Linked DNA regions of Homo sapiens. The protein of the gene in region 1 purifies or fractionates together with the protein of each later gene. This does not show direct contact. Each region holds a gene or a part of one and is shown on either strand. Other genes may lie near its edges.

The links.
Region 2: the proteins of IDH3B (region 1) and DBT purify together in Homo sapiens (affinity purification with mass spectrometry; 3 studies listed by BioGRID and IntAct, with this or other methods). This does not show direct contact.

Annotation. Positions count from the first base shown.
Region 1 is NC_000020.11:2,661,138-2,668,881, reverse strand, and holds the start of IDH3B (isocitrate dehydrogenase [NAD] subunit beta, mitochondrial isoform a precursor), read left to right. Parts: upstream 1-4,665; 5' UTR 4,666-4,693; coding exon 4,694-4,729; intron 4,730-4,876; coding exon 4,877-4,957; intron 4,958-5,123; coding exon 5,124-5,222; intron 5,223-5,315; coding exon 5,316-5,436; intron 5,437-7,744. UniProt on the Homo sapiens protein: Plays a structural role to facilitate the assembly and ensure the full activity of the enzyme catalyzing the decarboxylation of isocitrate (ICT) into alpha-ketoglutarate.
Region 2 is NC_000001.11:100,186,310-100,191,015, reverse strand, and holds the end of DBT (lipoamide acyltransferase component of branched-chain alpha-keto acid dehydrogenase complex, mitochondrial isoform 1 precursor), read left to right. Parts: 3' UTR 1-4,097; downstream 4,098-4,706. UniProt on the Homo sapiens protein: The branched-chain alpha-keto dehydrogenase complex catalyzes the overall conversion of alpha-keto acids to acyl-CoA and CO(2).

The DNA.
Region 1 (7,744 bases):
TGGAAGCAGCGTCCTCTCTTCCCATGTTACTTGCTCAACAACTCCCACAAGTACTACTCTTTGAATATTTTGGGGGGGTCTTTGATTCTTTCCTCAGCTGCCTGTTGATTAGATCTCTTCTGTCTTCACTTGCCTCCTGATCCCATTTTGCCAACACTCTCAACTCCCTTGTACCACTCTCTAGCAAAATATCACTTTTGGATGAACTCACTTTTGGTTTGCTCTCACCGTGAAATCACACACAATTGCACCACAATAAACTTCATGGTCACCAACCTCAACAGGGTGCTTAGTATTGCTCACAAAACTCTCTCTGTTTCTCTCGGACCTTGAACATGCACCAGTCCTACTTACTCACCAATCCTCACTATAACTCATCTCCTCAAATATATCTGCCCACCTCACTGTTCGTCAGCACGCTATGTTCACTGTCACCTCCGCAAGGTAGTGTCTGCCTTGGCCAGGTCCTCTTGGCAAGCTGGTGTATCCATTCCCCCAGTTGCTTCAGGTATTTGCCACTAACGGCTCAAAGCTTCCCCCTTCTCTGAAGGATTGGCCCTGGCCTATGCCATGCAGGGGCAAAGCAGGGTTGTTAAGCCTTGTCTCAAATCATGACAACCTTGAGTTGTCACTAATGCTCCAGAGCTCCCCAGGAGATGGGGCTGAGGTGGACTCTGGCTGAGGCCACATCTTGCTGAGCTCCTTCCCCTCCATATTCTGCTCATTCACCTTCTGATGTGTTTCTCCTGAGAGCACTCCTTCAACAGGTCAATTGCATAGAATCCCTGTCTTGGGCTCTGCTTCTAGGGCAGTTGATCTGAAACAGTAGCTTTGCTTACATTTCCATTTTCCCTGAGTGTAATCACTTCTCCTCTGTAATTCTGTTTATCCTTTCAATCACAGATCAAATTCTCCCAAGAAGCTTTTTCAGACGTTAATTTTCAAGGAATTGTCATTGGTTATATTACTCTTTTGATTGTTCATGGTTTCAGAAAAAGATCCAGTAGGCCTAATACACCAGAAATTCTGAAACTTTTGTGTGCAGCGGACCTCTTTGGAAGGCTGGTGAAGCCTGTGGAACCTTTCTTAGAAGAGGCTTTTAGGCCGGGTGCAGTGGCTCATGCCTGTAATCCCAGCACTTTGGGAGGCCGAGGCGGGTGGATCACGAGGTCAAGAGATCGAGACTATCCTGGCTAACACGGTGAAACCCTGTCTCTACTAAAAATACAAAAAGATTAGCTGGGCGTGGTGGCGGGCGCCTGTAGTCCCAGCTACTCCGGAGGCTGAGGCAGGAGAATGGTGTGAACCCGGGAGGTGGAGCTTGCACTCAGCTGAGATCGCCCACTGCTCTTCAGCCTGGGCAACAGAGCGACTCTGTCTCCAAAAAAAAAAAAAAAAAGAGACTTTTAAGTATATAAAATAAATAGAATTACAAGACAAATATGATTAAGACAAGCCTGGGCGACATAGCAAGACCTCATGTCTACAAAATATTTAAAAATTAGCTAGGCATGGTGGCGCATGCCTGTAGTCCCAGCTACTTGGGAGGCTGAGGTGGGAGGATCACCTGAGCCCAGGAGTTTGAGGTTACAGTGAGCCGTGATCACACCCTAGCCTGGGGAACAGACTGAAACCATCTCTCTAAAAGGAGAAAAGGAATAAAAGCTACCTTGTAACATACTACTATGTTTGCTGCTTTATTAATTCATTAAATAACACAATCTAGCATTGGGTCAAATAATGTAAAAATAGGATTAAAGTAAGTGATATTTTGAGAGATCTACTACAACTAAAATGTGGTATGAAAATATCTATACTTTTTATGATTGACAAAGTCAAGAGTACTACAGGCAGCACTGTAATCTGTGACCTGCATTCATAATGAAAGGAAATGCTAAACTTCAGTTAGAGGTTAGTGAGAATAAAGATGTGATTTTTGGTTTTTCCCCCATCCAGGTTCACAGTGCTGATTCCTATTCATGGACACCTAGGGGGTTCTGTAGATCCCAAGTCAGGACTCCTGTGCTGGAGGATTTGCAGGCCTGGGAAGCAGACATTCAAGTCACTCAGCTTCACACTGAACACTCAAGTGTAGGCAGCTCATCCATCATTATAGCCTCTTGTGCTAAGCAGAGGAGACTCCACAACAGTTAGAAGAGAACAAGATGGTATAACCTCCCTCCCATCCCCCAGGAGATAGGTTAAGAAACTTTTCAAAGGTCCTGACAGGATTTCTCCATTATCAGGCAGTATTGGTCAAAGATGCCCTCATGGGGACTTGAAGGCCAGGAGAGCTTGCTGAGTTCATGGGGAGAACACAGTGGCCTTCAGACAATAATGGTCTCATCTCCTTGGCCTGTGTCCACTGGTAACCTCCATCAGTTCCTTTCACCCTGGTGATGGCCACTTAGTGTTTTATCAGTTAGCAGATATTTTTTGAGTGTTAGGTGGGGAACAAGTCTGTGCAGAATTTAGGGATGGAAATGATGTAGTCACCCTCAAGAAAATTAGATTATTATCAGAGATTGGATTAAGATGGTACATCTCTCTTCTTTCTTATCCCACATTTCCTGACGTAACAGAAAATGTAGTTTTTTAAAAAGAGTAAATTTGGCGGGGTGCGGTGGCTCATGCCTGTAATCCCAGCACTTTGGGAGGCTGAGGGTGGCAGATCACCTGAGGTCAGGAGCTCAAGACCAGCCTGGCCAACATGGTGAAACCCTGTCTCTAATAAAAATACAAAAATTAGCCGGGTGTGGTGGCGCGTGCCTGTAATCCCAGCTACCAGGGAGGCGGAGGCAGGAAAATCGCTTGAACCCGGGAGGCAGAGGTTATAAATCTTCCATTTTTTTCTTAGTCAGAAGGAGAAATATTTGGAGAAGAAAAATAGTGACGAATATTAATAGTGATGTGGAAGCTGGGACGAGGGAGTCTATGGGAGCAAGACGGTGGTGCTCTCTGGTTTTGGTTGGTTTCATGGGATATATGAATGGAAATAGAGGAGTGTGTTATACTAATATTATATTAGCTATAATAACAGCTCTATATTTACCCAGTACTTTTCATTTGTTCAAAACTCTTACACATTACCTAGTTTAATCTTCTCATCCTACTACTATATAGGAGAATGTCGCACCTAAAGGATTGCAGAGGAGGCACAAAGCCTATGCATATTCCCCAAGAATAGAAGCACTGGGAATGCCTTTGCGTTGCCACCTTTTTGGCTGGTTGAGGTATATACGAAGGAGGAACTTATCACAGAGAACCTAGCTAGTGGTTCTTAAATTTCAGTGTGTATTAACGGGGAGCCTGTTAGAGATATATTTTCTGGGCCCCCATCACTGAGATTTGGATTCAGCAAATGAAGTATGACTCACAAGCCTGCACTTTTAACAAGAGCTCTGGTCCATCTGGATAGGTGATCCAAAACCATACTTCCAGAAGAGCGGGTGAGGCAAATCTTCCTGTACCAGTTTGTCTTTAGGTGTGTCAATTGTACACACCTAAAATCGTGACTGGAGGCCGGGCTTGGTGGCTCACGCCTGTAATCCCAGCACTTTGGGAGGCCGAGGCGGGCGGATCACGACGTCAGGAGATCGAGACCACGGTGAAACCCCGTCTCCACTAAAAATACAAAAAAAAAAAAAAAAAAAAAAAAAAATTAGCCAGGTGTGATGGCGGGCGCTACTCGGGAGGCTGAGGCAGGAGAATGGGGTGAACCCAGGAGGCGGAGCTTGCAGTGAGCCGAGATCGCACCACCGCACTCCAGCCTGGGCGACAGAGCGAGACTCTGTCTCAAAAAAAAAAAAAAAAAAATCGTGACTGTAATTGTTTTGAGACGGGTCTCGCCCCGTCTCCCAGGCTGGAGTGCAGTGGTGCCATCACGGCTCACTACGGCTTCCACCTCCCGGGCTTAAGTGATCCTCCCACCTCAGCCTCCTAAGTAGCTGGGACTACAGGTGTGTCACCACGCCTGGCTAATTTTTAAATTTTTTGTAGAGTCGAGGTCTCCCTATGTTGTCCAGGCTTTTTTTAGTTTTTATGATTGTTACTTTAAGGATCAGTCTGAAATTCCCTTTAGTCACACTTACACGCTTGAACTCATTTCTGACACTAGTTATGGGCCTGTCCTGGGGAGTTCAAGTCCGGGACACACTATTAGGGAAATAACTGTCAGAGCAAAGAACAAAACCCTGTAAGAAAAAACTACGAGGCGACGGGTAATACAGAGGTCCTGGGCACTCTCGGAGACTGGCGGAGAAACCCGACACACACCTCCCATGTCTGTACTGTATTCCTCGAGAGCCTGACATACAGGTATTCAGTGAGTACTGGTTAAAAGAATAACAAACGCATTGACACACAAATTTTAACAGCTTCCCAAGGATTTTCTCTCAATCGCTTGTTAAGCTCAGGTCCTCGTCTGATAAACATGACGCTACATTTTTCCCCCTAATGTTATTTTGAAGTTTCGACGTAGATTAAATATGGCGACTGAAAACAAAGCAAGAGACAAAGTGCTTGCGCATCCCATGACCTCCCCACCGGCAAGGAAAAGGAGAAACAGGCGTGAGCAAGCAGTGCTGGTTGGCGCAGAGAGAGAAATACCAGGAACTCAGTACAGGCCGGAAGTCGGGGTACGGGGCCGCGCCAGCTTCAGGCGTCACTTCCCACGCGACTTCCTGCGGGAAACATGGCGGCATTGAGCGGAGTCCGCTGGCTGACCCGAGTGAGGCCCCGGGACATGTCGGGCAGGGGCGGGCGAAGGAGCGGAGAGTTTGTCCTAGGGTTTCCTAAACAGGGCAAAGTCAACTGTAGTGTTCGGGGTCTGGATGTCTCAAAGCTGACCTTACAGGCTTGTGTGTCCCTGTTGCAGGCGCTGGTCTCCGCCGGGAACCCTGGGGCATGGAGAGGTCTGAGTACCTCGGCCGCGGCGCACGCTGCATCGCGGAGCCAGGTATGCACGAATCTGGCTGGGGTCTCTCTTACGACCCTGTCCCTTCCTCGCTGCTCCCTCCCCTGGCTTTTCCCCACCCCTCCCGGGTCTCCCTACTTCTCTACTCCCAGGATCCGTGCTCCCGCCCCAGCTCTATCTTTACTTCTCCCCTCTTCCCCCAATTGAGGCCGAGGACGTGAGGGTGGAGGGCTCCTTTCCCGTGACCATGCTTCCGGGAGACGGTGTGGGGCCTGAGCTGATGCACGCCGTCAAGGAGGTGTTCAAGGTGAGTGGCCTCGGGGATCAGACAGTAGAGGACAGTAGTGTGTTGGAAAGGACTTGGCCTTGACTGTGATGTTTTGGGAACCTGTCTCTGAAGGCTGCCGCTGTCCCAGTGGAGTTCCAGGAGCACCACCTGAGTGAGGTGCAGAATATGGCATCTGAGGAGAAGCTGGAGCAGGTGCTGAGTTCCATGAAGGAGAACAAAGTGGCCATCATTGGTATGTGTGCCCTCTTGCCACTTGTCCATGTGCCATTTAAAATCAAATGACCAAATGTTTATTAAGCCCTTCTCCCCACATGCTATGCAATTATATTAACTCCAGGGCAACCACCATTGGTATTTGGACATTTGTTCCTTCCCATTGGGAGCCCAGGAGTTGAGAGATCATGTCAGCTGTCTATGCAGAAAAGTTCCAGGGGTTCTGAGTCTGTCCTGAGGCTACATCAACTGTCATCAAATCTTATTCATTGCATTTCTGGAATACCACTTTTAGCTGCCCCTTTTCTTTTTTTTTTTTTCCCCTCCCTTCCTTCCTCTTTGTTTCTTCTTGCTCTGTCGCCCAGGCTGGAGTGCAGTGGCGCGATCTCGGCTCACTGCAACCTCCCCGTCCCTGGTTCAAGCAATTCTCCTGCCTCAGCCTCCTGAGTAGCTGCGACTACAGGTGTGCACCACCACACCCAGCTAATTTTTGTGTTTGTTTTGTTTTAAGACAGAGTCTCGCTCTGTCGCCCAGGCTGGAGTGCAATGTTGCCATCTCAGCTCACTGCAACCTCTGCCTCCCGGGTTCAAGTGATTCTCCTGCCTCAGCCTCCTGAGTAGCTGGCTGGTATTACAGGAGCGTGCCACCATGCCTGGCTAATTTTTGTATTTTTAGTAGAGATGGGGTTTCACCATGTTGGTCAGGCTGGTCTCGAACTCCTGACCTTGTGATCTGCCCGCCTTGGCCTCCCACAGTGCTGGGATTACAAGTGTGAGCCACCATGCCCAGGCTAATTTTTGTATTTTTAGTAGAGAGAGGGTTTTACCATGTTGGCCAGGCTGGTCTCGAACTCTTGACCTCAAGTGATCCACCCACCTCTGCATCCCAAACTGCTGCGATTATAGGCGTGAGCCACCGTGCCTAGCTGCCCCTTTTCTTTTGTCTTCCGCGCTTTAATCTCCTCATTTGATTTTTTTGGCTTCTAGTTCTGCCCCTATAGTTCATCTTCCATATCTCTTCTTGGAAAGAACAGCCTGATTTTCCAGGCCCAGCCTTACCATAGGAAAGTCAGTACTTTATAAGTTGGCCCTTAATTTTCTGCCTTGGTTCCACAACTCTTGTTCTGTGCTTCAATCACACTAGATTGTGTGTTAGATTCCAAATATGTACTACCTGACTTATATTGTTCCCTCCACCCAGAACGTTCTTTCTTTGGTGCTACCTGTTAGAGTCCTTCTCACTCATTCACTGTATTAGTTTCCCATAGCTGCCGTAACACACTACCATGAACCTGGTGGCTTATCATTAACAGAAATGTATTCTCTCACAGTGCTGGAGGCCATCAGTCTGAAATTAAGGTGTTGGCAGGGCCCTGCTCCCTCTGAAGGTTTAGGGGAGAAACCTTTCTTGCCTCTTCTGGTGGCTCTTGCTGTTTTTTGACTTGTAGATGCATCACTCCAATATCTGTGGTTTTCTTCCCTCTCTGTCTCGGTATCATTTTTCTCCTCAAATATTTAGCCCTGGATGGGACGATTTTTTCTCAAGATCCTTAACTTAATTACATCTGCAAAGCCTCTTTTCCCAAATAAGGTCACATACATAGGTTCTGGGGCTCAAGGCATGGCTGAAGTGCCAGCTCTTCTGTGCTGTATCCTGATATTACTGGAGAGGATTTCCTCTTTGTGTTGCTATGCAAGTTTCCCATGGTACTTATCATGTCTTTCATATTTTCTGTCTTTCCCAGTGTACCGTTTGCTTCTCAAGGGCAGGAGTTGTATGGTTTTAGTTGTTATCCTTATTGCCTGACATATAATTGATATTCATCAGTAGGTGTTGGGTTAAAAAATGTCAAATAAGGAGAAGGCACAGATAAAAAGATCACAGATCTGCTAGCATTGTTTTTCAACTTGTTGTTAAACCCAGGCTCTTTTTTGATAAATAGAAAAAATCTGTTCTCCGTTTTGAAGTTTCAACATAAATTAAATATGTTGACTAAAAATAAAGCATTAAGGCCGGGGCGGGTGGATCACTTGAGGTCAGGAGTTTGAGACCAGCCTGGCCAACATGGTGAGACACTGCCTCTACTAAAAATACAAAAAATTAGCCAGGTGTGGTGGCACATGCCTGTAATCCCAGCTACTGGGGAGGCTGAGGCAGGAGAATTGCTTGAACCTGGGAGGCAGAGGTTGCAGTGAGCCCAGGTCGTGCCACTGCACTCCAGCCTGGGCGACAGAGTGAGACCCTGTGTCTCTCACACACGCACACACACACACACACACACACACAGAAAATGCAATAGATGAAATGTTTCTGGCTTTAACTACAT
Region 2 (4,706 bases), on another chromosome or scaffold:
TTATCAAGAGAAAAAGAAGATACCTATTTGAATTTACATGACACTTTCTGTGAAATATCTGGATTACCAGATTAGTCTGAAACAAATGCCTTCCAAATTCTACAGCGCATGCCCAAGGCACTCTTTACAGTACCTGTTCGGGTCTTTTCTTCTAATTTTAAGCACCTACCCAAACGTCTTCCCAGGCTTGTCATAATAAGCAAATAACCTCAGAGCAGACAAAGTGATTCAATCTAAGAACCTTGAATTTCTCTCCTTTTCACCTCAAAATTTCTATTCTCACACTTTCTTTTTGTTTCTCTTTCCGAGAAGTGGTTCTCCATCAGCAAATACCAACTGTTTTCTGTCCTCTATTATTTATTCCATCTCTTCCTCCTGATCCCTGCCCCATGTTGAACCCCCATTGCCCCACTTTGATCCTTCAGTCTCTTCCTCACATCCAGAACTGTACCAGATTTACTCCCTTAGCACACTGATTAAAATTTATTTCCATTTCCTTATGGAGGAGGTATTAGAGACTGATCCCAGACCTCTACAAATTTCATTGTGGCAGGGTAATGTTATGTGTCCATAAACCTTGTTCCTTTTCTTTCAGCCTGCAGTTAGGTAGAGCCATGTCATTTATTTGTAACTATTAGAATATGGGTATATGGGTTGAAGTAATGTAGGCCATTTCCAGACATGGCCCATAACACTTCTCAAGAGATTCTTCATATTCTATCTCTTCCCCTCCAACATGCACCCTTCAAGGTTGAAGATGGCACCACACAAGATAGAAGGAGCCAGTGTTCCAAATGACTAGGCAGAGCAGAATGCTCCCCTCCCTACACCCTAGCACCAATTGGTTTGGATGTGATAGTTGAATAATACACTTTTATTGTTTTAAGACATTAATATTTTGAGATTAATCTGCAAGTCTAGTTAGTAAAACTCGAACTCTGAGCTGTCTAATGCAGTAGCCTCTAGCCACATGTAGCTATTTAAATTTAAATTTTAATTTTAATTAATCAAAATTCAACTCAGATATACTAGCCACATTTCAATTGCTCAGTAGCCACACTAATTAAATTTAAATTTAAATAGCTACATGTGGCTTATAGCACCATACCAGATAGCACAGATGTAGACTGTTTCCATCATCACAGAAAATTCTATTGGATAGTGCTGCCTTAACTAATAAGACACAAATGTTCTTATTTTTTAAATAGTCCCTAAAACAAACGAAAAACAAAGAACTCCCTTCTCTAATGGCAAATTTCAGTTTGCCTAAAAGAAGACTCAGAATGCTTTTCTTATATTGTTACCTCTGACTGCCACTAAATGAATAAATTTCCTGTCTTGCTCCTTCTGCCAAACTTCTTGAATGGGTGATCTTTAACTCCTTGCAATCCTGGCTTTTTTCCCCAGTGCTCACCTGTAATCAGTGTTGGCCACAACTCCCACCCAGATGTCTCCTAAATAGTTCTCTGAACCCACCTCTGTCCTGATCTACAGACATTCATTCCAATGCTTTAGCATTTCAAGGTCATCAAATGACTCAGTGACATCTCAGACAGTCAGACAGACCAGGTCAACTATGAACTATTTATGCCAAACCTTACATGGTTCATGTTATCCTTGCTATCCCATCAAAATAACCACAGGCTTTTTTTTTTTTTTTTTTTAATTTTTGAGATGGAGTCTCACTCTGTCACCCCGACTAGAGTGCAGTGGTGCGATCTCGGCTCTGCTCACTGCAACCTCCGTCTCCTGGGTTCAAACAGTGCTCATTCCTCAACTCCCAAGTAGCTGAGATTACAGGCATGCACCATCACGCCTGGCTAATTTTTCTATTTTTAGCAGAGATGGGGTTTCGCCATGTTGGCCAGGCTGGTCTCGAACTCCTGACCTCAAGTGATCTGCCCGCCTCCACCTCACAAAGCTTTGGGATTACAGGCATGAGCCACGGTGCCTGGCCTGCAGCCTCCTTTATTTTACAAAAGGCATTACCACTTAAACACTGAAGATAGCACGAATCTCTGATGTTTGCAAGTTCAGAATAAAATGGAAATGAAAATTCATTATGTGGCAGTCTCAGTACTGAGCACAAAGGCTTTTAACCACAAGCAAATTACTGTGCTAGCCAGACCGTGTGAGAGAACTCCAGGCCAGCTTGCTAAAACTGAGCAGGAGAATTTGGAGAGAGTCCAGAGGAGAGCCACAGAAACAACTGAAGCATGACAAGAATAATTGCAGTTCTGTTATAGAGAGGTCATCTATATCAGGCTTTTATGGAGTACCATGTGGAATGTTACCACGCAGAGCATGGGGAACAGCTGTTGTGACTCAACAAGAGACAGGACAGAAGAAATGAGAACAGGTGGAAGATCAATAATTTAGGTTTGATATGGGGAAAGATGGAACAGTCAAAGGGATTCACACTGATTTTTGGCTGAGCAGAAGGCAGAGTCTCCTCCAACGGGCAATGTAAGTGCCCCCACTCATCTACACCCCGAGAAGAGCCATCAAACTGTATTAAACTTGGAAAAAGCTATTTAACTTCAAGTGTGCTGCGAGAAAACTTCATAATAGTTCCTAAGATGTGCTAAAAAGTAAAGTCCAAAAAGATCATAAAGTCTGTAGAGAAGTTCTAAGAGTGCAGTCAGCTATAAAAACCTAGCAATTTAATTTCTTAGAAAAATGTAGCTGGAGTTCAAACTGTAGTAACAAAGGCAAGTAAATTAAGTTGTGGGCAGGTGTAATTAAGTTAATAGGAATGGCAGGGATGAATATAAATCAGAACAGGACTAACAGTTTGAAACATTAGATATTCAAATGCTCAGAGCTGATGAGCCGAGCCACTACGCTAACAACTCTGCAAACCAAAGGTTTCACAAATTGCACAAGAACCTGGCCTCGATCCCATTGTGTTGCTGGCATAAGATTAGAAGGGCCTGTTGGTTCAATTGTTGCTTTGGACAGAGGAGGACAAACTTGCCACAGTGAAGAAATCATTTTTAAAAACCACCACTGTCCTTTAGTGCACTAATTTCTCTAATAACTAGGTGTATATTAGAAATAATGATATATAAGTGCAGTATACTCCAGTTTCAACAGAATGGTGTCACTTCTGTAAAATGTTGATTTTCAGATTGTCATACTTTCTAAATACAAAAATTTGTCACAGCTTCCACATTTACAAGATATTAAACATTCCATAAAATATTTGTAGAAATATGAAAAACCAATTTTTGTAGTTGCCTTTTGAAATGTATACAAAATATCCCACATGGGCAACATGGTAAAACCTCGTCTCTACAAAAAAAAAAAAAAAAATACAAAAAGTTAGCCAGGCCTGGTGGTGCACGCCTGTGGTCCCAGCTACTCGGGAAGCTGAAGTGAGATCACCTGTGCCCAGGAGGTCGAAGCTGCAGTGAGCTGTGATTGCACCACTGCACTCCAGCCTGGGTGACAGAGTGAGACTTTGTCTCAAATAAACAAAAAGAGACATATACAAAATATATTAGAAAGTTGGGTTAATATCCTACAAACAAAGTATTACATAGTTTGCACAGGATTATGTGTGTAAAAAGTTTTAAATTCAGTATAGCTTTTATTTCTGCAGAACTAAAAGTAGTGCATAAAAATAAAAGTGGGATGAGCATATCTTTTTAATTTGCTATGCAGTAAAAAGTATCTCAGTCAACATATAGGAAACCAGTGCCATTTCTGTATCATTTGACACCGAAGGGGTATTGTTTTTTGTTTTGTTTTGTTTTTCTTTTGAAGAAAGACTTTTATGTCTTTTATTCTATTCTTCCGATTTGGGGTTTAAATTACCCCCAATAAGTTTGCAGAATATTCTGATTACTACTGCTTAGGTGATATATTTCATATGAGAACTATCTTTACACAATGGGAAAAAATATGGTAACCACTTCATTCATCAGAGAAGTTGTGTTTTGTTTACTTGTATTTTGTTTGCTAAATGAAATTGGTTATTTAGACTCATGGCATGCTTTTTCTCAAATGGAGATTTAAAAGTCATTTCCAATGTCCTTCTAACTTCTGGCCAATTCCCAGTAGGCTATAGAATAAACAGTTTTCATATAATAGTCTCTAGTGTCTCCACTGTTGATTGGTTTACAGAAACGACGGTGGTGGTGGTGTTGATGGTGGGGTGTGTGCGTGTGTGTGTGTGTGTGTGTGTGTGTGTGTGTATGAAAAATGACAACTGGCACAAAACAAACCTAAAAATCAGAAGTACATTTTAATTCCTAGTTAAAAACATTAACTTTTTATTCATAAAATACATATTTAATAATAGAAAAAAGAAAAGGGAATAATTAGCACTTAAAATGAACAATTTTTCTTAGCTATTTTAGTAACTTAAATATTTAAGGTATTAAAAGATTGAAACTGTGGGCCGGGGTCATGCCTGTAATCCCAGCACTTTGGGAGACTGAGGTGGGTGGATCACCCGAGGTCAGGAGTTTGAGACCAGCCTGGCCAACATAGTGAAACCCCATCTCTACTAAAAAATACAAAAATTAGCTGGGTGTGGTGGTGGGTGCCTGTAGTCCCAGCTACTTGGGAGGCTGAGGCAGGAGAATTGCTTGAACCTGGGAGGTGAAGGTTGCAGTGAGCCCAGATCACACCACTGCACTCCAGCCTGGGCAACAGAGCAAGACTCTGTCTCAAAAAAAAAGATTGAAACTGTGGGGAAA